Homo sapiens: one gene and its partners. The protein of the gene in region 1 interacts with the protein of each later gene in a biochemical or structural test. Each region holds a gene or a part of one and is shown in the gene's direction. Other genes may lie near its edges. The genes, in order: MAPK8, PAX2, BMF, SPIB, NFE2, GEMIN5 and JKAMP.

Region 1 (3,500 bases):
TTTTTTTTTTGAGGGAGTCTACCAGGCTGGAGTGCGGTGGTGCGATCTTGGCTCACTGCAACTTCCGCCTCCCAGGTTCAAGTGATTCCCTTGCCTTAGCCTCTCAAGTAGCTGGGACTACAGGTGTGCACCATCACACCCAGCTAATTTTTTTGTATTTTAGTAGAGGCGGAGTTTCACTGTGTTGGCCAGGATGGTCTCGATCTCCTGACCTCATGATCCACCCACCTTGACCTCCCAAAGTGCTGGGATTACAGGCGTGAGCCACTGCACCCAGCCTCGTATGCATTCTTTATCCTACCTTTTCTTGATGGAAGTACAAGGTTAAGGATTTATTTAGGCTTTAGGCTATCTAGTGGAGCTAAATAATTATGGATTTGTACATTGAGTGCCCACGATGTACTAGGTGGATCTTTGAGGCAACACAACGAACATGCAGGGTCTCTGTTGGCATAGTCCACTGTCTATTTGGATCCATTAGCATTTTAGGAAATAGTTGCAAAAAAATATATGTTGTAATAGATATAGAAGACACATGTTGAGCGTCATAGACTTGGAAGGGATCCAGTTACTTGTCTTTGGAGAAAGTGAGAAATGTATATGACTGTTTCATGAATTCAGTTTACAGATTTTTGCTTGAAGTTTTTTTGTGTGTTTTTGAATTTCTTATTACAGCGCAGCTTATGATGCCATTCTTGAAAGAAATGTTGCAATCAAGAAGCTAAGCCGACCATTTCAGAATCAGACTCATGCCAAGCGGGCCTACAGAGAGCTAGTTCTTATGAAATGTGTTAATCACAAAAATGTAAGTGAACATTTTTGGTTTCCTAAGTATAGATGAAATCAAGATTTATTCATGAATATGTGAATATCAAAGACTAAATATTAGGGGCTTTAAATTGTTCTGTATTAAAACATTGTTTAAAAGGGATATATATATATATATATATATCTACAGGGTGATTTTCCTCAACTTTATTAAATTGTATCAGAAGAATGGCTTCTAAAATTTAGATTATATGATTTCCTGTCATTTAATTTACAAAAGGAGTTTTAAAAAGATAAGCGTTTGAGAAGAATTTTATTCAGCTTGATCTCATCTTCTGCTTTTTGTTCTCCGTCAGGCTGACATTTAGAAAACTGTAGCATTAGCACAGAGATGAAATTGTTCCCATTATGCTTTGACACTCTGACTTTAATCATATTGAATATAAAATTTATATCACTTCTCCCTACCCCACTCCCACCTCTTTAAGTGATGGCAGTATTCACTGATCACTTTATGATGAGGATAGTGGGTTTAGCAGAAAGTGTTTGAAACTATCTAGAGGGTATTAACATGTTTCTAATTCTATTTTCTAATGATTGCAAAGATAAGTCTTTATAAAGATATATAAGTTGCACTCATTTTGAGAATAAACAGTTATACTTTTTTAAACTTACATTAAGCTTATTCATACTTTTGTGATTGTTCTAATGGAATGATTTCTTCAGTTGAGGAAATAAACTAGGAGTGAATTGTGTAAGGGACACTTTTAGGCAGTCCTAAACCGAAGGCATCTGACTAAAGACATTTCGTAGTGTTTGTCCAAAAGAGTTTATATAATATAATGAGCACAGTACCTTCTGACTACAGATAATACAATTTACCACATTTTGAGATCTAAATATGTGCAGGCCTCTGTGTATTGGAGTTACTGGGTTCATTATCAAGGGAAAAAAAAATCATGGAAGTTCAGGATTAGGCCCTTTATTTGGGGAGCTTACAATGGTGTTTTGAATACAAAACAGACATACAGAGAGTTAAATATCAAACATCACAAAGCAGTGGCCGTTTGTCAAATGATGATGGTGGCCCATATATTGAAATCTAAAAAGAGGGACGATTTCTGTGAGCTTTAATTAACTGGGAAGGCTTTGGGGAGGAGTAGACCTAGGCTGACTCTTAAAGATGGGGTAAAAATTGGATTGTTGAAGGAAAGGAGCCTTCAGAGAGGAAGAATGACGTAAAAAAGGTCCAGAGACAAAGATTAAACTTAGATAATAATAGGGAGGAAGTTGTGGTAGCCATTCTTGTTCCAAGCGGGAACTTGATGTGTTGCTCATCACAGTTTTGCTGGTGGCATCCTGTCCATGGATAGAGCTGCTCGTGCCCCTTGTGGCCTGTGAACGCAGTTCCATGGCAGTGGTGGTGTTGCCTTAGTTTTTCCTTGGGGAGGAGTTCAGTTAATCCTACCTCTCAAGCCTGGGTGACTGCAAAGAAAGGTGGTTCCTTCAACTGCATGGAGTATGACTAAGCATGTCTCACATGATTAGGCCTCTAGCAGGGGTGGCAGAGGTTTATCCAGGCAGAACTCTCAGCACCTAGAAGAGTGTGGACAAGAGTAGGTACTCAGAATATATTTGTTCAGTGAGTGAGTATAAAGCTAAATATGGGAAAACTGGAAATGGTAACTGAATTATTCCACTCACCCATGGATGGATGTTTTTGTAGTGTTTTGCCTTTTAAACAATTTCATCCTCTGTACAGATTGTCTCTTCACTGGTCTAAGCATCTCTGGTTTTTCTCATTCTTTTCATAGATGGTCTTGAGTTTCTTTTTTAATCTTGGCCGTTTATCTCTGAACACACTTTGAAAGTGACCTAGCACACACTACTGCATAAGCCACCTAGCACACAGTACTGCACGTCTGATCAAATCCTCTGAGAGGAGCTGAGGCATGTCATCTCTTAACTGTAGACATTAAAACCCTGTTTAGAAATTTCGTCCCCATCTGACTCCCGTTGTCTTTCTTTGTTACAGGCCTGCCTTACAGTTCCCATCTCACCCAGTCTTTATATTTTTTCTTTTGATTATGGAGAATTAAGTATAGTACTTCATGTTTCTCCCTATTAAATTTCAAAGGTGAAATGTGGTTGCTCTTCCTGGTCTACTAGTGATTGCTGTGATTGCTTTTTTCTTCCTTGTTCTGACTTTTCACTTGTGGGCTTCACTTCCCAGTTTTGCTCAGGATATCTTTGTAATAGCTGGATTAATTCATTAGCAACTTTTGAGCATATTGCAGAAATTACGTGTCTAACTATCACAGTTATCCAGCTGTTTCCAATTCATCATCTTATTCACATGGATGTTATTATTAGAAACATTTTGTAAAATGCCATTTTGAAATCTTCATATACTGTGTCTGGTTGCATTTTTCTGATTTATTGCTATTGTTCTTTGTTGTTTTTATTCATGGAAGGAAATAGTATTTCTCAATGAACTTTTACCTGCTCTTGGTAATTGTTACTTCTTTTGAAGTAGTTATATACCACTACTAATCATTGACTTTTGCTTGGCTGTCCAGTCTATAACTGATATAATTTCCTTTATTTCCCTTTTTGAAAAATGGGACAACTATCTGTTTGAATCTCTTTTATAACAGCTTTATTGAAATATAATTTCTGTGTCATGCAATTCACCCATTTGAAGTATACCATTCAGTGGTTTTTAGTATATT
Region 2 (3,928 bases), about 52 Mb from region 1:
CCTGGTGCGTGCGAGCGGACCCCAGCGAGCAAGGGAGCTAGTGCCAGAGAGAGCTGCGGAGGCTCCGGCAGGAGTGGGGACGTCCCCGTGGTTGCGCCTCCTGCGCTCGCCCCGGATCCACCGAGCTAGCAGCGGGCGGCGCTCAGCCGCGTCCGCAGCCTCCTCTTCTCCCCAGCCGGGGAGAGCCAGCCTCGTCTCCCACATCCTCTGCCGCCAGCGACCTGCAGCTCCGCACTGTTTCCCTCCCCTGTACCCCCTTCCCAGTCACCCGAGGGTTCAGAAACCAAGTCCCCCGGCTCTCCCGCCATCCGCTGGGTCCCACCGAGGCAGGTGGGTACTCGCCGGAGGTCTTCAGCTCGATTCTGAACCAAGCGTTCTGGACTGCCCAGACCCGGTGGGCAAGGGGACTGGGGAGGCCCTGCGCACAGTCGCGTGGAACGGGAGGGGACAAGACAAACTGCTGGACACTTTTCCGTGGAATGAGAAGTGGGGGGTGCGTGGGTGGGAAGGTACCTCCGGAGGGAAAGGCCAAAGGGAAGGACCAGAAAGAGAGGAAGGAAGAGCCGGGAAGGAACGGAAGGGAACTCAGAGCCGAGGGTGGTGGGGTTGGGGCTAGGGATGCGCACTGGGCCCGGGGCCGCGCGGCCCAGGCGGGCACTGGCCAGTGGATGGCAGGGCTGGGCGAGTTAGAACTGAGAGCCCGGCTTCACAGCGCAGCGCGCTCCGAGGCCCTCTGTCGTTACCTGAATATTCATTAGACTGACCGCTCTTTATCCTTATCTAGCGTTTATCTTATCGGCGAGTTTCGTTTCTCAGTGTAGTTTTAATCCCGGGCTCCCATTCCCCCTCCCCCGGTCCGCTCCCCTCCCTCCCTCTTCCTTCGCCGGCTGCTCCCTCCCTCCCTCCCTCCCATTTCTCCCTCCCCTGCCCTCCCCTAGCCGGCACCGGAGTGACAGGCTCGGGGCCCTCCTCGCCGAAGCTCGGGGCTCCAGCGCTGGCGAATCACAGAGTGGTGGAATCTATTGCCTTTGTCTGACAAGTCATCCATCTCCCGGCGCGGGGAGGGGGAGGAGGTCTGGAGGGGGCTTTGCAGCTTTTAGAGAGACACACACCGGGAGCCGAGGCTCCAGTCTCCGGCCGAGTCTTCTCGCAGCCGCAACCCACCTGGGGCCAGCCCAGAGCTGCCAGCGCCGCTCGGCTCCCTCCCTCCCTCCCGGCCCTTCGGCCGCGGCGGCGTGCGCCTGCCTTTTCCGGGGGCGGGGGCCTGGCCCGCGCGCTCCCCTCCCGCAGGCGCCACCTCGGACATCCCCGGGATTGCTACTTCTCTGCCAACTTCGCCAACTCGCCAGCACTTGGAGAGGCCCGGCTCCCCTCCCGGCGCCCTCTGACCGCCCCCGCCCCGCGCGCTCTCCGACCACCGCCTCTCGGATGACCAGGTTCCAGGGGAGCTGAGCGAGTCGCCTCCCCCGCCCAGCTTCAGCCCTGGCTGCAGCTGCAGCGCGAGCCATGCGCCCCCAGTGCACCCCGGCCCGGCCCACCGCCCCGGGGCCATTCTGCTGACCGCCCAGCCCCGAGCCCCGACAGTGGCAAGTTGCGGCTACTGCAGTTGCAAGCTCCGGCCAACCCGGAGGAGCCCCAGCGGGGAGCGCAGTGCTGCGCCCCCCGCCCCCGCGCGCCCCGCAGCAGCCGGGCGTTCACTCATCCTCCCTCCCCCACCGTCCCTCCCTTTTCTCCTCAAGTCCTGAAGTTGAGTTTGAGAGGCGACACGGCGGCGGCGGCCGCGCTGCTCCCGCTCCTCTGCCTCCCCATGGATATGCACTGCAAAGCAGACCCCTTCTCCGCGATGCACCGTGAGTACCGGCGCCCGGCTCCTGTCCCGGCTCGGGGCTCTCCGTCCCAACCCTGTCCAGTCCCAGCGTGGCCCCGGCCCCTCGCGCTCAGGTCCCATCTTGGAGGCCTCCCTGGCTTCTGGTCCCTCTTTTCGTTCTTTCTCTCCCTCGCCCGGTGTTTCTAATGCCTCCAGTTTCTCTCCTGCCTTCTGTCACCCATTCTTACCTCTCTGTCTGCCTGCCTTCCTACCTTCCCTGATCCCTATCACCTGCCTTTGCTCTTTCTATCCGCTCCTTCTTAGGTCATGGGATCCACGGCCTCGGAGCCCTGGTTCCAGCCACCCTCTCCCTAGTCAGCCTCTTGCCCTGGGCTGGGGGGCAAATTAGCAGGCAGTTTTCAGGGTGTTGTTTTGTTGTTTTCTCTGTCTTTTCTCTCTTTCTCTCTTCCTCTGTTTGCCTCCCTCTCCTGTCTCCCCACATCTTTATCTTTCTCAAACTTAAGAGTCGTGGGGTCCAGGAGACTCCAAGAGTATTCAGCCTCAGTGTCAGGACAATTGGGCAGAAGAGTGTGGGGGTGGGGTGCCCCCTTCTGACCCTCATCTCTCAGCATCTCCAGGCCCTTCCAGCCCAGCATAGGCTTCTTGTGGGTTGGTTTGAAATATTTTCTTCCTCTTCCTTTCTTTCCCACCCCCCTTCCCTTGCCTTCCCTTCCCTTCACATTGGGAATCCCAGGTTGTCAAGACACGATGGTCATCTTTCCCTGCCTCTGCCTGGGGGATGCTCTAAAAACAAAGAGGGGCTCCGAGAAGAAATCGAAGTCAGGGAGAGAGCCAGCAGCGCAGCCTTCCAGGTGGGCCCCCGGCAGAGTGCAGCTCTGCTCTCAGCTCTGGAGGCTCCTTGCCTAGACTGCCGACTCCCCATTGAGGATCACGCAGCCAGCAACCTGGCCAGGGGGTCAGCAAAGAGCAAAAAATGAGGGGGAAAGAACAAAAGGAAAGCAAATGCCAAAGCTGAGGAGAAAGGAAAAGAGAAATCCAAACACGGGAAAGGAAATTAAAGAAAGAAAGTTGACATGATGTTACAGAAGAAAAGGGAGAAGGGAGAAAAAAATAGAGAAAAGAGGGAATTATTTTAATAAAATTTGAATTTATGCCATGTCTTTAGCTTGAAAAACTATTCTGAGATTTTTTTTGCAGGCTTTTTTTTTTAAAAGCTAAAATTCTAAATAGAAAACTCCTCCCTATCTGCAGATTAATAATTAAGGATAATTTGTAACTTTTCACAAGGAAACTTTAGACCCGGCTTGGACCTGTGTTTAGGACAAGAGAGCCGAGGAGGGAGAGCTGTGTTTTTCGCTAATCATATATTTAGCGTTGCGGGGGTTGGGGGGGGCGTTTAAAAATACTTCTGGGATAAAATATATTTTTCTAAGTAATTTCCAAGCGCAGGAAAGCCGCGCCGAGGGCATCAGGCCTCCGCGGGTCTCGGCGAGCGGGCCGGAAAGCCTCGGTCCTTTTCGGGAGGAGTGGAACCGGGTCCACACGCCGTTTTCGCCCAGCCAGCCTGCCTCGCGGCCCGCTGCCACAGCTCTCGTTCTCCTTTTTTGCGGATTCCGCCGGGGGTCCGCCGAGTCCTGGCTGCCCGCGGGCAGCCACTTTGAAACCCAAAGGTTTCTGCACGGCCAAGCAGAGGTCGGAGGGAGAGAGCCGCAGCGCGGGCCCGCGGGCCGGTGGACTGGTGGGTGAGACACCGCAGCCCGAGTCGGTGCTGGCGGCCGTGGCGCATTCCAGGCCCGACTCAGCGCCGACTCGCTGCAGTCCCCCAGCCCTGGACTCCCGCCGTGTCCCCTTCCCATCCCCACCCCTTAGACTGGGGCTGAGGGGCCGGGCCCTGAGCCCGGGGAGGCTGAATTATTCATCTTTAATCTGCCCGCAGCTGCCGCCTTTTCATACCGGTAACGCGAGTTCTCCCGGGGCCTAAATTATTGATGGTCGGGGTTTGGAGGGAGGGGAGGGTGAGAAGTGGGGCTAGAGATAGGGAGATTAACGGGGTGGGCAAGGGGGTAAAAGAAGGGGCTTCAGTCTCTCCCAGCAACGCGA
Region 3 (3,500 bases), on another chromosome or scaffold:
CACACACTCTGCACCTGACTGCTCTCTCTTCCAGGAGAAGGGCCTTGTAGTTCCGGAGAGTTCATTCCCTCCCCACCAAGGCCTGCCATGGGATGGAAATTGGCTTTTTTTTTTGGAAAGTGGGTGATGGGAGGAGGGGACTAAGGGAGACACAAAGAAAGAAGGTTAAAGAAAAATGACTGGTTTGCCTTTTGATCCATGTCTGGCAGCCAAGAGGTCATGTTCCATGACCAGAGCACACAATCAGTCCGTGTGTGAAGGGGAGGGTTCCATCCTTCCTCCTTGCCTGGTTTGCCTTGACCTGGTCCTGGACAGGACATGAACAGTCAGCTGAAAAGACCCCAAGTCGAGTGTCAGAACCTGGGGTTATTTTGCATAGCATAATACACACAACAGGCTTGTCCCCCGAACCCCCTCCCTCTCCCTTCTTTAACCAGGGCACACACCATTGTGCCCTTCTGAGCTCTGAAGAAGTTGCCCAGTAGTTTGATGGAGCTGTTCTCAGCTTGAAGGAAACTGAGTAAGGGTCTCAGTAGTTCCTCCCTCCAGGCTGTGGAGGTGCAAAACAAGGGTCTGGGGACATGGATGGTGCAGCACAGCTCTGTCCCCGAACCGTACCCCTCAACCCCCAGTGGCTGGAGCCAGTGTCTTCCAGTTGCGTTAGAGGAAGCCTTGCCATCTTCCACTGAGAGCTGGCTGGCTTCGGACTGCTCTTTTTTCCTTAGAGAAGCAATGGGCGTGGCCATGGTGGCTTCAATGTCCTGTTAACACTGCTGGCTGGGCTGAGGAAGCTCTTGGCAAGGAGTCTTTTTTTTCCTTTTCCGTTTTGCCACGTTGCTCGTTCCTCGGGCCTCTGGGTCAGAAGCAGTCTGAGGCAGTGGGCCCACTGGGTCCAAGGGGTTGCCCTCTGGGTTTCAGAATCCTTGGCTTACCCTGGCAGCCTAGAATCCTGAGCCCCATGGCCTGTGGCTGCTGTGGGCAGTCTCAAAGCAGAAAGTCAGGGATCTCCCAGGGATTTCGTGAGTCTGCCGGGAAGATGGTGCTCCCCAGGCCGGCCCTGTTGCAGAGCATATTGAGAGACGTGCTCTGCAAAGCCAGTGAGTCCCAGGTTTTCCTTGTGCTCCCCAGGGAAGGAGGAGCCTGCTCCTTGCAGCCCCCAGGCCCAGTGCTTCATGTATATTTTTCTTACGTAATCACCACAGCAACCTTGGACTTTTAGACTCCATTGCCACTGTGTTATAGGAAACTGAGGCTCAGAGAAGTGAGGTAACATGTCCAAGTCACACCGTAATTTGCTGAGCTAGGCGTCATACAGATTTGATGGATTCTGGAACCATGGTCCAATCGCCCCATACCTGCTGCCCAGCAATCACATTCCGGAAAACAAGGGTACAAGGAAGCACACATTTGCTGCCCCAACCCGCTCTGCCTCATGTGATACTCAGCTAGGTGCTCTTGCTCTTCTCCCCATTATATTGTAAAACAATTGAGAACCAAGTTTATAATATTTTAATCATCTTTGTATCCACATAACTCTTAGCTCAGTTGGGTGCTTAGTAGCTCAGTTGGGTGCTTGGTAGCTCAGTTAGGTGCTTGGTAGCTCAGTTGGGTGCTTGGTAGCTCAGGTGTTTGGTAGCTCAGTTAGGTGCTTGGTAGCTCAGTTGGGTGCTTGGTAGCTCAGTTGGGTGCTTGGTAGCTCAGTTGGGTGCTTGATAGCTCAGTTGGGTGCTTCATTAAAATGTCCTTATTTCAACAGAAAACATCTTCCTAGCTTCCTTCAAGCAGGAATTTTCCTGCTCTCAATGTTCCTGTTCTTAATTGCAAGGCTCTTTCTTTCAGCCTTGGCCTGAGTAGGTTTAGAGAATGACAGGGAAAAGGGAAGAGGGAGGAAAACTTCACATCGTGGACTGTGCACCTTCCCCTAGAGTATAGACAATTCTGCATTTTGAAGAGATTGAGTGTGGTTTCAGATCACAGTCTGAAGTTATAATTTCAGACCAGTTTTAGCTTTATTTCTGTTTGATCTTCAGTTAGCTCTGCCTCTGAAAGGGTTATTTTTTTCTGGTCCACAGCGTCCTTACTAAATAGTTAATGATCTGGAAACAATGTCTTTAAGCATACTAGGGGAGCAGATCAGTGGTGATTTGCTTTGAAAAAGGTAATGCTATTTTCATAATGTCAATAAACACACTGTAAAATTTTAGTGAAGGAACATAGCTTTGGAGTCAGAAGTCAGGGCCTCAAATTACACCCCTCCCAACTAACTTGGGATGACTTTTCTGAGCCATTGTTTCCGTCGCTCTAAAATGGGTTGATTAATACCTGCTCTTCCTATCGTGAGGATCACATGAGAAGAAAGGAAAGTGCTCTGTTCTGTATCTGAGATATTATAAGTTGCTCTCTGTTTGGTAAATTTGCATTTTGTGAGTTAGGTTCTTTTAGAGCTGCACACGGCTTCGCTTTGCTTCTTCCTCTGATACTTTGGGGTGAATTAGCTCTAGCTGGAGCATCTGGAACACTGGTGACACACAGAGCCCCCAGAGGGTATGAATTGGATCTGAAAAGGGGAGAGGCAGAGGGAGATTCTTATCCAGGGAGCGTAGGGAACACGCTTTGTGCTTAGGGCAGAGGCTGTGTGGGATGAAACAGAGTTTGATTTATGTAATCCAACCTTGTCAGACACCACAGCCAGCTCTTTAGAGAAAAAAAAAAAAAAAAAAAAAAAAGGAGGCCTTTTACTAGTTGGGCCTCTCCCCAGGTGTGAGGCTGATACTATCACATAAAGTACATCTTTAGACCTGGCCAGACATCAGTTGTTCCTGGCCTCAGACAAGTGGGTTATCTTTCAGGGCTGACTCCTCTGTAGTCGGTCCAGCATGCCCTTGTTGAGTGCCTACTGTATGCCTTCCATGTTCCCCATTACACAGGATGAGCAGCTGTGCATTCAGGCATAGGGTGTTGCACACAGTAGGGATTGAAACATTTGTCAGCTGACTGCCTTCATCCCCTGTCCGTGGCAAGAAAATGAGGCTGGGCCAAAGAAGCCGCATGGGGCTCTGATGCCTGCTTGTGCTCTCTTCATTGAAGAGAACACCGTGATCTACCATGTTAGGGCACCTTCCCTGGGGGCATTCACCTCTATTCATTCCCTCCATTCCTTGGCCCTGCCTTCTAAACCATGTGAGTCCGAGGGCTCTAGGGTGAGCTTCCCCTCCTCTGTATCCCAGCCCCGACCCTTGGGTCACCCTGACTGTGTATTCTGGGAACTCCCATTCTGTGAGGGGTTCCCTAGCTGAGTCTAGGAGGGCAGGCCTGGTTCTGGGGATCTGCCCTTGTTGATCTCAGATTGTGCGCTGGGTGCTGTGCCGGGTGCCTGAGGGTCAGAGGCCAAGTACACTCATTCCTGGTTCCCCTCTCTTCCCCTTCTCCTCCACACCCTCTTGTGGAAGATCCCACGTTCTCTGGTGTTTTGGTATCTTTGTGTTCTTCATCCTGTTCAG
Region 4 (2,877 bases), on another chromosome or scaffold:
GCTGCCCCTTTTTATGTGTCTGGAGTTCCCCAATCACATCTAGGGCTCCTCCAAGATCCTTTTGTCATGTCTGAAATCACTCTTGAGAGGTCTGGGGTGGAGGATGGGGAGTCAGTGAAATGTGTCATGTCTGGGCCCTGTCAGGGACACCCTTGTTATATCTGGGATCCTCCAATCACATCTGAGACCTCCTAGGCTCTCCATCTGATATGCCCTTTCAGGGACCCCACAAAGACTGAGTTCTCATGGGGATCCTACCCTTCCTAGTGCCACTCCCTATGGCCATGCTGAAGACCACTCTGGCCACGCGACTGATTTTGGGTGATCATGGCAGCTCCCCACCCATGTCATTTCTAACCAGAAGTCTCAAGGTCGTCACCCCCCTGCCCCCCAACCGAGGCCCCGGTCGCTGGTGGTGGTCTCTTTAGTGCACTGTAGCACTTGGTGGTGGAGGTGTGAGGGATCCACATTAACAGCAGGCCATCAGCTGGGCAATGGCTCACACCTGTAATCCCAGCACTTTGGGAGGCGAGGCAGGGGGAATGGCTTGAACCCAGGCATTCAAGACCAGCCTGGGCAACATAATGAGACCTCGTCTCTACAAAACATAACAAAAACAATTAGCCGAGCGTGGGGGTGAACACCTGTGGTCCCAGCTGCTCAGGAGGCTGAGGTGGGAGGATCTCTTGAGCCCAGGAAGTAGGAGGCTGTAGTGAGCTGTAATCGTGCCACTGCACTCCAGCCTGGGCGACAGAGTGAGACACCGTCTTAAAAACAAAAACAAGGCCGGGCACGGTGGCTCATGCCTGTTGTCCCAGCACTTTGGGAGGCCGAGGCAGGCGGATCACGAGGTCGAGAGATCGAGACCATCCTGGCCAACATGGTGAAACCCTGTCTCTACTAAAAATACAGAAATTAGCTGGGCGTGGTGGCACGTGCCTGTAGTCCCAGCTACTCGGGAGGCTGAGGCAAGAGAATCGCTTGAACGTGGGAGGCAGAGGTTGCAGTGAGCCTAGATTGTGCCACTGCACTCCAGCCTGGGGGACAGAGCGAGACTCCGTCTGAAAATAAAAACAACAAAAACAGCAGACCATTCAAAATAGGGAGACTTTGCATAATCCAGATTTCTGCCTTCACTTAAAACTTTGGACGGTCTGGAGAGAGTCGGCCAGTTTTCGGTGGGGGGTGGGGAGCTGGAACAGGACAGTAGCCTTTCCTAATGAGGCATTTGTTCTCCAATCTGCCCCAGTCGCTGCCATCCCTGGCTATCTCACCCTAGCAGCTTCTCAAGCCTGTTGGCTTTAGACCACTGTATAAACCCAGCTGGAACTGAAGCCTGGGTGGACTATGGAGCCCTGGTTGGGACCCCCAGGGAGTCAAAGGCTGCGGGCCAAGAGGCCAGAGGTCCTTGAGCCTGGGTGGGCAGGTGGATCTAGGGTGCATGACTTGCTGCTTCCCAACCTTAGTTTGTCCCTTCTGTGAAAAAGGGAGAGAAGGAGGAGGAAGATCTCAAAAAGACTTTCCAGCCCAGTGCGGTGGCTCACGCCTGTAATCCCAGCACTTTGGGAGGCCGATGCAGGTGGATCACCTGAGGTAGGAGTTCAAGACCAGCCTGACCAACATAGTGAAGCCCCTTCTCTACTAAAAATACAAAATTAGCTGGGCGTGGTGGCATGTGCCTGTACTCCCAGCTACTTGGGAGGCTGAGGCAGGAGAATCGCTTGAACCTGGGAGGCGGAGGTTGTAGTGAGCTGAGATCACACCACTGCACACCAGCCTGGGCGACAAGAGCGAAACTCCGTCTCAAAAAAAAAAAACTGTTGCAGCCCCGTTGAGCCTTTGACACCGCCTGAAATCCACCCCACTCCCAGGAGGAGGAGGAGGAAGGAATGCCAATGACCTAGAGACACGAGAAGTCCATGTGGAGGCACACAGCAGCTGATGGCAGAGCCCAGGCTGGGACCTGCCCTTAAGAGAATGAGTGGGAAGGGGGAGGGAGGAAGGGCAGGTAAAACGTCCTCCCCAGGGCCCCCTGCAACGGGGAAGGTACTTTTTACAAAAGCTATCATTGTCACCCTAAATGTGGAATAAAATAAGATGCATCGACGTAGACAAACCTCCTGGGACCTTTTGTCAGGGACTGCAATCCTGCCCCTCCACTGAGGCCGCTGGCTCTCAGAGACACCGTGACATCACGGGTGATGATGAGAGGAGTTCAAAGAGAGAATTATATGCTGGCGCGGTGGCTCTGTAATCCCAACACTTTGGGGGGCCAAGGCAGGAGGATCGCTTGAGTACAGGAGTTTGAAACCAGCCTGGGCAAGATAGTGAGATCCCCTTCCCACCCGTCTACAAAAAAAATAAAAAATTAGCGGGGTGTGGTGGCGTATGCCTGTAATTCCAGCTACTCCGAACTACTGAGGTGGGAGGGTCACTTGAGCACAGGAAGTTGAGGCTGCAGTGAGCCGTGATCGTGCCCCTGCACTCCAGACACGGCGAGACCCTGTCTCAAAAACAAACAAACAAATCACAAAGACACCATACAGCAAAACCTATCTGAACCTTAATGCCGAGAAATAAGAGGCTTGACGCGCAGGCACAGAGGGTTCCGTTTATGTCTTCCTCTATTCCTGCCAACTGAAGTTCTCCACCTCCTCCCCGCTTCCCCTTCCGTCTGGGTGTCTGTCCCCTTCCCTCTGAATTGAGCCCTCGGGCTGGCAGCGAGGGACGCGAGGCTTCAGGTGGCCGCGGCACTGCAGGCCTGGGCCCCTCCCCAACTTAGCGGGGCTCGCGGGAGCGCAGTGGCAGTCTGCCTGGCAACCCGTGACATCACATGGAACTGACGCCGGATTGGCTGGACGCTCCCCGGAGGCGGAG
Region 5 (4,177 bases), on another chromosome or scaffold:
TTTTATCAACTAGGACTGAACATTTTCATTATTTTAACAGCAAATACAATCCCATCAGAGCATGCTGGTTGAATGCCAGTCCTACTCCAGAGTGGCACCTATCTGCTTCCCCAGTCTTCAGATGTTTCTAATTTAACTTGAACATTGTAAGAAGAAAAAATGTAAGCTGCAGATGTCAGGATTGAAGCTAGACATATAGAGCTGAAAGCCATTACAAATTAGGAGGAAGAAAGGCTCTTTTCTCACAGTCTGTGGAGAAAGATGTTTGACCTGGGGCTTTGGTGGTGTAGCTTGCAGGCAAAAAGATGAATAAGTGGGCTGGGTGAGGTGGCTCATGCCTGTAATCCCAGCACTTTGGGAGGCCAAGAGGGGAGGATTGCTTGAGCCCAAGAATTCAATACCAGCCAAGGCAATATAGTGAGACACCACTTCTACCAAAAAAAAAAAAAAAAAAAAAAATTAGCTGGGCATGGTTGCACTGACCCATAGAACCAGCTACTTGGGAGGCTGAGGTGGGAGGATTGCTTAAGCCTGGGAGTTTGAGACTGTAGTGAAACATGTTCACACCACTGCACTCCAGCCTGGGAGACAGAGTGAGCCCCTCTCTGGAAAAAAAAAAAAAAAAAGATGAATAAGGGTACTTACTGGCCTAACAGAGTTGGGTGCCATGTGGCTGGGGTGCTTTGCCTGGGAGAAAGGAGGACAAAGGACACCTGGGGTCCCCTTTACGGGAGGTGAATAATCTCCCTGCTGGGTGGCCCCCCACCTAACTCCCTTCACACACTGACAAAAACCTGGCCAAGAAAGAATCCTTTGTCCTGGGACTTCTGAGGCTGAGGGGGGAGGGGAGAAGGCTACAGGTGAAAGGACACATCAAAGCAGTCAGTTGCCCCTCCTCCTCCAAATAGTTCCCCTGCCCTTGTTCCCAGAGCCCAGGTTTTCTGTAAATGAAGGCTATACCCTAAACGTCCAACTGCCTAGACAGCTGGGAAGCTAGACACCTGGTCCTTACCTTCAGCTGCCTTCCACCTTGATATGACTCAGTTTCCCTGTCCCTAGGAGAGCCGTGGGGACACAAGGCGACGACAACCTGTATAAAGTTTAAAGGTCACATTCGAGTGGACCATCAGGTTGGAATTCGTCAAATGCATGGGAGAAACGCAGACCTGGCTGGACTCCTGGGCTGAAAAGGAGGGCTGGGAGAGGCTTGGAGCCATGTGTGCCCCCGCTGGCCAGGAGCAAGGTGGGGGCGGGGTGTGGGCAGAAACCACATCGGGCTCAAGTTTCCTCTCTTGGCCGAAAGGGGCAGGAGGAGAGGAGAGCCACGGGGAAAGGGGAGGGTTGGAGGAAGGACTGAGAACTCAGGCCGAGGGCTTCAGACGCTGGTGCGCCTGCTTGGGGCTCCTGTGCTCAGCTCAGCCTGAGCTTCCACACTCAGCGCTCAGCAATGGCCCGGGGGCGGGGCGCGGTCCTCGCAGATTCTCAAAGGTAGCCGGGATCCTCGTCCAGCAGTGTCAGCTCAGGCTCAGCCTCCCCAGAGACAACACCGGGAGCCTCATCTCTCTCCTCACCCTGCTGTGACTCCACCACAGGTGCCTGAAAGGCAGGGTGTGTGTGGGGGGGGCGGATTCCAGTGAGATCCGAGGGGCAGGCTGGGGGGTGAAGGAGGTGAGGGGGGAAAATAACCAACTTTCGGTATCCTAGGAGACCTCAGACTTTCTAGATTGCCCCTGGTTTAGGAATCTGACATATTTGGGAACTCCTCTAGGAGAAGACCTAAGTGGTTTCTTGGGTGCTCTGGGATCCTTGGGGTGGAGGCTGTGAATGGGGATCAGAGAGGGGTCTCCAGAGGCAAGGCACCGCTGAGGGGCTGGGGAGTAGCCAGGAGGAATCCTTCAACTGGTGGGCTACCCTGAGGGAACCAATAGACTACCCTTTCCCCAACTCCATTCCATTACTCTGCCCTGTCTAGGCAGCTGAGAAGGTTTAGGGAAAGCTGAGGAATTGGAAACACTGGATATCTGAACCTCTGAGAAGTGTTGCAAGGTGCGGGGGTTGGATGGGAGATTGCCTCTGGGTTGTTGGCTCCTTTGCCCTTTCTCTTCTCTGTGCCCAGGGGCAGTAGAGATCAGCTGGACCTGGAGGGAGAAGGAAGACATCCCAACCCCAGCATAGTTGCTTCTAACTGGAACTCTTGGCTGCTTGGGAAATAGGGGCTTGGGAAGCAGTGGAAGAGAAGAGAGGAGGTATCAGAACTGCTGGGGCTGGGATCCCCTAGACATCGGTACCAAAGGACTGGAGTTTGGGGTCCAGGGATGAAGTGACACAATAGCAGAAACTCGTCCCCCTCTTCTTTGTTCTCACACATTTGTTTGAGTCATGCATGTCCCTAGGGCACTGAGCTCACTATGCTTAAATCTCTCTCCCTCCTTTTTTTCCCCTTCATTCTGTCTCATCTCTGTGTGTCTCTCTCTCTTCGGGAGTTCTCCCTAATCTTTCTAAATAGGTTGCTTACCGGTTAACCAATACCCCAAGTTTTACTAATCCCTCCTCATCCTTTCACTGCACCTATTGACACCTGGAGAGGTGAGGTGGTCAAATAAGCCTCAGAAAAGGGATCCTGAGGCAAGCCCCCTCTCATCGTTCCCCCTCGTTAAGGAAGTTAAGAGCCCTGGGGCAGCAGCTAAGGCCAAATGTATTCCTCTCTCCATCATCCCTCTCCGAATAGTCCTCACTCTGTATTCCTAATCATGAAGCTCCGTATCATTCTGTGAGTACTTAGGGATTATGATAAAAATCTTTCTGGGTAGGACCACCAGGCTAAGAGTAAGGAGGATGGACTTTAGTCCCTGGTGACAACCCCATTTCTACCTAATCCATAATGTTGGGGAGTAAGAGAAGGAACAGACAACCCAGTGGGAGTAAGATGGTGGTGTGACCCCAAAATGCAAAAGCTAAACTGTAAAGTGGGAGCTTCTTATTGTAAAAGAAAGGGAACACAGGGAAGCCCACTTCACTTTCCCAGTATCTCCCCAGTTTCTATACCCTCTATGGTGTTCTATTTGATCCAATTCTATCTATCTCCCTGATCTATCCCACTGCCTGCCAGCTCTGCTGTCCTCTGAAAGGTAGGCTCTGGAAACCCAGAGGGACCCTATGCCTGGTGTATAGAACACCATCCATCCTTGAGCGTCTAGGGAAAAGCATCCTGCTCCACCTGCCACCTGGTACAAACTTGCTACTGCACCCAAGAGCTGGTTGGAATGGATCCAGAGGTTCTCCTCAACTCTCTCTCCCCCAAACTCCTGCCTCCCCTTGCTCCCCTTCTTTTTTTTTTTTTTTGAGACAGAGTCTTACTCTGTTGCCCAGGCTGGAGTGTAGTGGCATGATCTCAGCTCACCGTAACCTCTACCGCCCAGGTTCAAGCAATTCTCATGCCTCAACCGCCTGAGTAGCTGGGATTACAGGTGTGCGCCACCAGACCTGGCTAATTTTTGTATTTTTAGTAGAGATGGGGTTTTGCCATGTTGGCCAGGCTGGTCTCAAATTCCTGACCTCAGGTGATCCACCCACCTCAGCCTCCCAAAGTGCTGGGATTACAGGTGTGAGCCACCACACCTGGCCACTGAGGCACTTTTAAAATGCTGATTCCTGGGTTTATGGATTCAATTCAGTAGATTTGAAGTGGCTTTTAGGAATCTGTGTCTTTACATGTAGCCCAGGTGAATGTGGCACACAATGAAGTTTGTGACTCCCTGAGCTAGATGCAACCTATGGCCTTTAATAGCAATTAGGTTCCTAGTCCTGTCTCCATTTAATGGAAGGGACTGAATGAGAAGCAATTTGCCCACGGTCATGTATCTTTTTTTTTTTTTTTTTTTTTTTGATGTGGAGTTTCACTCTTGTTGCCCAGGCTGGAGTGCAATGGCATGATCTTGGCTCACCACAACCTCCGCCTCCTGGGTTCAAGCGATTCTCCCACCTCATCCCCCCAAGTAGCTGGGATTACAGGCATGCGCCACCATGCCCGGCTAATTTTGTATTTATAGTAGAGACAAGGTTTCTCCATGTTGGTCAGGCTGGTCTTGAACTCCCGACCTCAGGTAATCCTCCCATCTTGGCCTCCCAAAGTGCTGGGATTACAGGCGTGAGCCACCGTGCGTAGCAAGGTCTTGTA
Region 6 (3,150 bases), on another chromosome or scaffold:
CAAAGTGATGGGGTTATAGGTGTGAGCAACTGCACCCAGCCTTTATTTTGTTTTTAATTACAGCTTTTAGTTCCAGAAACTCACTTTTTGTTTTTGTTGTTTGTTTGTTTGTTTTGAGAGGGAGTCTCACTCTCATGCTCAGACTGGAGTGCAGTGGCGCAATCTCAGCTCACCACAACCTCCACCTTCCGGGTTCAAGCAATTCTTCTGTCTCAGCCTCCCGAGTAGCTGGGACTACAGGCACGCGCCATCATGCCTGGCTAATTTTTGTGTTTTTAGTAGAGGCGGGGTTTCACCATGTTGGCCAGGCTGGTCTTGAACTCCTGACCTTGTGATCTGCCCACCTTGGCCTCCCAAAGTGCTGGGATTACAGGCATGAGCCACCGCGCCTGGCCCACTTTTTGTTTTAATTAAATGCAAATGTAAAGGTGTTTTCTCAGTGTGAACAGACTTTAACACCGGGACGTGTGTGTGCTGCTGTGCAACTAGACATGAGAGTTTCCGATGTGGGAAGCAAAAATGGGTGGCGGAGACAAGAGGAACTTTCAAAGTGTGAATTGTGTGTACTTGTTTCCAAATGCGGTTCACAGGAACAGTTTGGTGGCATCCTCTGCGCCTACCGTGGGAGGATGTTTAACTCAGACTCTGGCTTCTCTCTCCAGCTCCTGCTTCACATTTGCCATGACTTGACCCTGGCAGTGCTGAGCCAACAGATGGCCTCCTGGGACGAGGCTGTGCAGGCGCTCCTTCGGGCGGTGGTCCGGAGCTATGACTCAGGGAGCTTCACCATCATGCAGGAAGTGTACTCAGCCTTTCTCCCTGACGGTAAGTGACTTCCTGCTGCCTGAGGCACACCCTTTAATGGACAACATCACCACCATTAGTGGTGTGGCACTGGGAGTACCTAGATTCTTAAAAGATGGAGATTGGCCAGCTGTGTCATTTTAGTAGAAAGTTTGGATTCTCTTACCGAAGCTTTTAAGAACAACTATACTGTTTCCTTTACCTGGCCCTACCCTCTTACAGCCTCCTGTCCACTTTCCACAAAGTTTAAGGGAGAGAGAAATAGGAATGTAGTTACATGTTAGTAAGAACAGAAAAGAACAGCAAAAAAGATAGACATTCCTTGGGCTGCATAGTCAGTCACTGAACTAAATCATTGTGATTTTTCAGAGAGACAGTGTGATCTGTTGTCGTGGCCCCAGAGCCTTCAGTAGTACAAATGGAATACTCTATCATGCTTTGAATGACTCCTAGGATGTAGTAATGAGAACACTGTCGCAAGCCAGGAAATGTTTAGCCTCCAGTTGGCTCTTGGTGGAAAGGCATGTGGCCCGGTGGATCACACTGTTGTCCTTTTTCCTGGGGTCTGCTTCTTGGTTGATAAGAAATAGAACATAAGGGCAGGAAGCCACATTTCTGGCAACTAGAGAAATGCATGACCCAGTATCTTTTTCCTCTTTTCCTAGGCTGTGACCACCTAAGAGACAAGTTGGGGGACCATCAATCCCCTGCCACACCAGCTTTCAAAAGTTTGGAGGCCTTTTTTCTTTATGGGCGTCTGTATGAATTCTGGTGGTCTCTCTCCAGACCTTGCCCAAATTCCAGTGTCTGGGTAAGGGCTGGTCACAGAACACTCTCTGTTGAGCCAAGCCAGCAGTTAGACACTGCCAGCACTGAAGAAACGGACCCTGAAACTTCTCAGCCAGAGCCAAACAGGCCTTCAGAACTAGACTTGAGACTCACAGAAGAAGGTGAGCGAATGCTGAGTACTTTTAAGGAGCTCTTTTCAGAAAAGCATGCCAGTCTCCAAAACTCACAGAGAACTGTTGCTGAAGTCCAAGAGACCTTGGCAGAAATGATCCGACAACACCAAAAGAGTCAACTCTGTAAATCCACAGCAAATGGTCCTGATAAGAATGAACCGGAAGTAGAAGCAGAGCAGCCCCTCTGCAGTTCTCAGAGCCAGTGGTAAGTACTGAGGCAAGTACAAGACGGAATGAAAAATGACCCTGCTGGCTAGGAACAGTGGTTCATGCCTATAATCCCAGCACTTTGGGAGGCTGAAGCAGGAGGATCACTTGGCCCAGGAGTTCACCACCAGCCCGGGCAAAAAAGCGAGACCCTGTCTCTACAAAAAAAAAAAAAAAAAAAAAGCCCGGGCACAGTGGATCACGCTTGTAATCCCAGCACTTTGGGAGGCCGAGGTGGGCAGATCACTTGAAGTAAGGAGTTTGAGACCAGCCTGGCCAACATGGTGAAACCCCGTCTCTACTAAAAATTAGCTGGGTATGGTGGCACATGCCTGTAATTCCAGCTACTTGGGGGGCTGAGGCCAGAGAATCGTTTGAACCTGGGCAGCAGAGGTTGCAGTGAGTCAAAATCGCACCAGTGCACTCCAGCCTGGGCAACAGAGGGAGACTTCATCTCAAAAAATACAAATAAAGTAACCAGGTGTGGTGGCATGTACCCTGTAGCTACTTAGGAGGCTGAGGCAGGAGGATCACTTGAGGCCAGGAGCTCAAGTTCAGCCTGGGCTACATATTGAGACCCTGTCTCTAGAAAAATTAATTTTTTTAAATTAGCCAGTAGTGGTGGCATGCACTTGTAGTCCCAGCTACTCAGGAGGCTGAGGTGGGAGGATCACTTAAGCCCAGGAGTTCGAGGCTGTAGTGAGATACGATCATGCCACTCATACCAGCCTGGTTGACAGACCCTGTCTCTACAAAAAAAAAAAAAAAAAATTAAATTTTAAGAAGCCAGGTGACAAAGGAATTTTATTTATAAAATGAGATAAAAGTAACCCAGGCAGGGGCATATGCTCTCAGGGCCTCCTGAGGGCTGTGTCATAGGCAAAAGTTTAAATTTTTAAAAAATATTAAAAATAAAAGGTAAAAGCTACCCAGGCATAACAAAAGATAATCCAATTCAAGGATGGGCAAAGGACTTGAATAGACATTTCTCTAAAAAGCCAGTAAGCACAGGAAATGATGCTCAACATCTCATCATTGGGGAAATGCAAATCAAAACTACAGTGAAGCAGCACTTCATAGCCATTAGGCTACTATCAGAGAAACAGAACAAGTGTTGAGGAGGATGCAGAGACATTGGAACCCTTGTGCCTATTGGTGGGAATGTAAAATGATGCAG
Region 7 (3,500 bases), on another chromosome or scaffold:
AGAAATACAGTTGGGATAAAAACTTTCTGGAAAAAAGTGGTAAAAGCAGTTTGGTACATGGTTGCCTCTAAGGGAGAGACAGAGGTATGGATGGGGAGGAACAAAGATGTAGTTACAAATTGTTGACAGTGTTCTAGTTATTGGGTAGGAGATGAGCTTATAATATTATAATTACTATACTTTCTAACAAACACGTTACATACCATCTTTTATGTGCATATTAAGATTAAAATGATACACAGATAACTAAGAAATTTTTAGCAACAATTTGGCAAGATACTAAAGATGCAGGGTAGATATAATTTCTGCTTTTCTGTTACACATTTAGATAATACTGCTACAGTGTTATTTATCCCTTTTGAGAAAAAAAGGTTATACTCGAGTAGTTTTTGACTTTTCTTATAGATTTAGAAATCTGTATCTTGACACATGTACATGTTTTATTAAAGCCATTTAAATATTGCAATTTTTCTAGTAATCATGCCTCTTTTCCTTCTCTAGTTCCAGCGCACTTTTCCAACACATCACTGCATTATTTGAATGCAGCATGGCAGCTATTATCACCTTACTTGTGAGTGATCCAGTTGGTGTTCTTTATATTCGTTCATGTCGAGTATTGATGCTTTCTGACTGGTACACGATGCTTTACAACCCAAGTCCAGATTACGTTACCACAGTACACTGTACTCATGAAGCCGTCTACCCACTGTAAGTGTTTATTTCGACTTAAGATCATTGTTTTTTTTTAAATCTCTGAGGATTATTATAGATTTTATGGCGTTTGGAGACAAAAACAGGTGTGGGTTTGAGTTCTGGGTCTGCCAGCGGCTTTATTACCTTGAACATGTAAACAGCCTCTTGTAACTTCAGTTTTCTCTTTGGTAAAATGGGAATAATGATCCTTATAAGGTGTCGTGAGGATTAAATTAATCCACACATTCTAGATACCATATAACTTACATATAGGAGGCACTTTATAGTAAATGGCATTATTACAGTGTTTGGATTAGTGTTTTTTCTTTTTTTCTCCCCAAATAAGTGTAATTTCTGTTAGAATGTTTTGTTTTCAAAATATTAAATTCATAAAATTCTGTATGCAATTATGCCAGACTATTCCAGTTTCAGAATTTTTATGAATTTTTGTAAATTCTAGAACTAGAAAATGAATCAAATTCATTTTGATATTTTTTGGGGGAAAGGGAAAATAGAAGTCTGGTATTTATATTCTCATAATTGTAGCAGGCTTTCAGTACATAATATGCTCAGGGAAATTAGTCCTTTTTGAGCAAGTTCTTAATAATAAAACATCAAAAACATAGAAATGCAAATAGGTACAAAACAACCAGATATCTTAGAAAAAATGAAAATCTTCTTTTCTACCTGCCAGTTTTTTGTTTGTTTTTGAGACAGAGTCTCGTTCTGTCACCCAGGCTGGAGTGCAGTGGCACGAGATCTCAGCTCACTGCAACCTCTGCCTTCTGGGTTCAAGTGATTCTTGTGCCTCAGCCTCCCAAGTAGCTGGGATTACAGGCATGTGCCACTATGCCTGGCTAATTTTTGTATTTTTAGTAGAGAGACGGGGTTTTGCCATGTTGGCCAGGCTGGTCTTGAACTCCTGGCCTTAAGTGATCTACCCACCTTGGCCTCCCAAAGTGATGGGATTACAGGCGTGAGCCACTGTGCCCGGCCTCTCCCTGCCAGTTCTTAGGTATGGCAAATTATTTTATAGATATATATATATAGCTATAATTTATATATAAAATACTATATAAAACACTGATAATGTCCTTTTTGTTGATTCATTGATTCGTAGAGCTTAACTCTAAGCATTAATTACCCTCTTGTCATATAACTCTCCTAAGGCCTTGCATAACTTAACGTGGTCCTATTTGGAAAACTTAATAAATGAATTGAATATTATATTTAAATAAGATATAATGTAATCTTATTTAAAACAAAATCAGACTTATTTAGCGATAGTCTCATTTATGTTATTTATTGTAATATTTATAAAGCCTATTACAGTAGGAGGGTCAGAAAATATAAGATTAGAAGAGAAATGGCAAACAGGTACTACCAACCCTCATCTGCACCTGTAATAGTCACTTCTAATTTATTGTAGCACTTTTTCTGCTGATTTGAGTGTAGCCTAAGAATCTTGTGGCAGCACTCTCTGTCAATCAGAATCATCACACAGCTTCATTGATTAGGACATTTTTTGTCTATTCACTATCCCTGAATCAAGATTGTTTGTTTTTCTTCCTCAGCACCCTTACCAACAGTCATTGTAGAACAGCTTGCCTGCCTTGTTTTATTATTATACAAAACAGTGATTTTTAAAATTATGAGATATTATATAGTATCTTATAGCATTGGGTTTAGGCATATTATTTATTTACCTAAGCATTCTAAATATAAATGTATGGTCAGACTGGGCTAAGCACTTCCGAAGGTTGTAGGGCTACCACAAGTCATAGTAATTTTTTTTTTTTTTTTTTGCAAGTCAACAAAAAGCAATAGCACACAGTTACCAGAAACCTTTGGAACACTAGTGCATTGACAAATGAAGGCTGTTTTTCCCAATGTATATATAGCCTAGTTTCTTACAAATTGAAAAATACCACAGGACTTTACTGATAATTATAGTTTTAAGGGGAAACAGATGAGGCATGAAAAAACATGTAAGCTTCTATCATTATAACTTACTGCAAAAAAATAACTTTTACATTACTAAAACTTTAAGAATGAGTTATGGAAAATGAGCAGTTATTACTCTTATAGCAGGAATTAGCTTTAGTTTGTCAAATTTAAACTATCCCCACATGTAGGCAGCATGGATTGAAAGAGGGGAAGAGTGGAATGGGATGAGGTCTTCTGGTGGAAGGCAGGAGTGGGAAACGTAATCACTTCCAGAAACTAGTTTCCTAGTTCATTTGGAGAAACACAGGATGGTTTCCTCCTGATTAAAGTGAATCTTTTTGGAGCTCTTAAGGAATTACAAGTTGTGGAAATGGACAGATTTTTTTTCTTTTGCTGTTGATAAGAGGTAGCAAACAAGACTAGGAAACTAATTCATTAGAAGAGGTAACACATAATGGTTTCCTCTTGATTAAAATCATCTTTTTTAGAGCTCTTAAGGAACTACAAGTTGCAGGAATGGATAGATTTTGTTTTCTTTTGATGTTGTTTGGGGGTGGTATAACAAGACAAAAAAATTATCACCCAAGAGATCAAACATGTACTAATGCATTACTGTACAGGACTGAACCTAAAAGCATCATAGGAACACAGGATTATGGTATCATGATGCTGTGTGGGGAGGAAGCATGTGGTCCGTGATCTGAAATGACTGCTGACTTCCTAGGACACTCCCCTGTATAGGGAGAGGGTTTGAGTAGCAAGATAGTAAAAATGATTTGAAAATACTCAGGAAAATTAAGGTAGAACTATGTGGATAAAAGTCCCATTATTCAAAATAAAGTGCTAGAAATCTGGTGACA

What was found.
Region 2: of the proteins of MAPK8 (region 1) and PAX2, one has a biochemical effect on the other in vitro, tested with the Homo sapiens proteins (one study listed by BioGRID).
Region 3: of the proteins of MAPK8 (region 1) and BMF, one has a biochemical effect on the other in vitro, tested with the Homo sapiens proteins (one study listed by BioGRID).
Region 4: of the proteins of MAPK8 (region 1) and SPIB, one has a biochemical effect on the other in vitro, tested with the Homo sapiens proteins (one study listed by BioGRID).
Region 5: of the proteins of MAPK8 (region 1) and NFE2, one has a biochemical effect on the other in vitro, tested with the Homo sapiens proteins (one study listed by BioGRID).
Region 6: the proteins of MAPK8 (region 1) and GEMIN5 form a complex in vitro, tested with the Homo sapiens proteins (one study listed by BioGRID).
Region 7: the proteins of MAPK8 (region 1) and JKAMP form a complex in vitro, tested with the Homo sapiens proteins (one study listed by BioGRID).

The regions. Positions count from the first base shown.
Region 1 is NC_000010.11:48,404,177-48,407,676, forward strand, and holds part of MAPK8 (mitogen-activated protein kinase 8), read left to right. Parts: intron 1-675; coding exon 676-805; intron 806-3,500. UniProt on the Homo sapiens protein: Serine/threonine-protein kinase involved in various processes such as cell proliferation, differentiation, migration, transformation and programmed cell death.
Region 2 is NC_000010.11:100,744,454-100,748,381, forward strand, and holds the start of PAX2 (paired box protein Pax-2), read left to right. Parts: upstream 1-1,128; 5' UTR 1,129-1,739; coding exon of another isoform or gene 1,740-1,807; coding exon 1,808-1,850; intron 1,851-2,561; coding exon of another isoform or gene 2,562-2,734; exon of another isoform or gene 2,735-2,984; intron 2,985-3,928. UniProt on the Homo sapiens protein: Transcription factor that may have a role in kidney cell differentiation. Has a critical role in the development of the urogenital tract, the eyes, and the CNS.
Region 3 is NC_000015.10:40,095,380-40,098,879, reverse strand, and holds part of BMF (bcl-2-modifying factor), read left to right. Parts: intron 1-3,500. UniProt on the Homo sapiens protein: May play a role in apoptosis. Isoform 1 seems to be the main initiator.
Region 4 is NC_000019.10:50,428,938-50,431,814, forward strand, and holds the end of SPIB (transcription factor Spi-B), read left to right. Parts: 3' UTR 1-2,377; downstream 2,378-2,877. UniProt on the Homo sapiens protein: Sequence specific transcriptional activator which binds to the PU-box, a purine-rich DNA sequence (5'-GAGGAA-3') that can act as a lymphoid-specific enhancer.
Region 5 is NC_000012.12:54,298,216-54,302,392, reverse strand, and holds the start of NFE2 (transcription factor NF-E2 45 kDa subunit), read left to right. Parts: upstream 1-1,377; 5' UTR 1,378-1,592; intron 1,593-2,116; exon of another isoform or gene 2,117-2,246; intron 2,247-4,177. UniProt on the Homo sapiens protein: Component of the NF-E2 complex essential for regulating erythroid and megakaryocytic maturation and differentiation. Binds to the hypersensitive site 2 (HS2) of the beta-globin control region (LCR).
Region 6 is NC_000005.10:154,890,062-154,893,211, reverse strand, and holds part of GEMIN5 (gem-associated protein 5), read left to right. Parts: intron 1-662; coding exon 663-825; intron 826-1,469; coding exon 1,470-1,971; intron 1,972-3,150. UniProt on the Homo sapiens protein: The SMN complex catalyzes the assembly of small nuclear ribonucleoproteins (snRNPs), the building blocks of the spliceosome, and thereby plays an important role in the splicing of cellular pre-mRNAs.
Region 7 is NC_000014.9:59,494,517-59,498,016, forward strand, and holds part of JKAMP (JNK1/MAPK8-associated membrane protein), read left to right. Parts: intron 1-501; coding exon 502-708; intron 709-3,500. UniProt on the Homo sapiens protein: Regulates the duration of MAPK8 activity in response to various stress stimuli.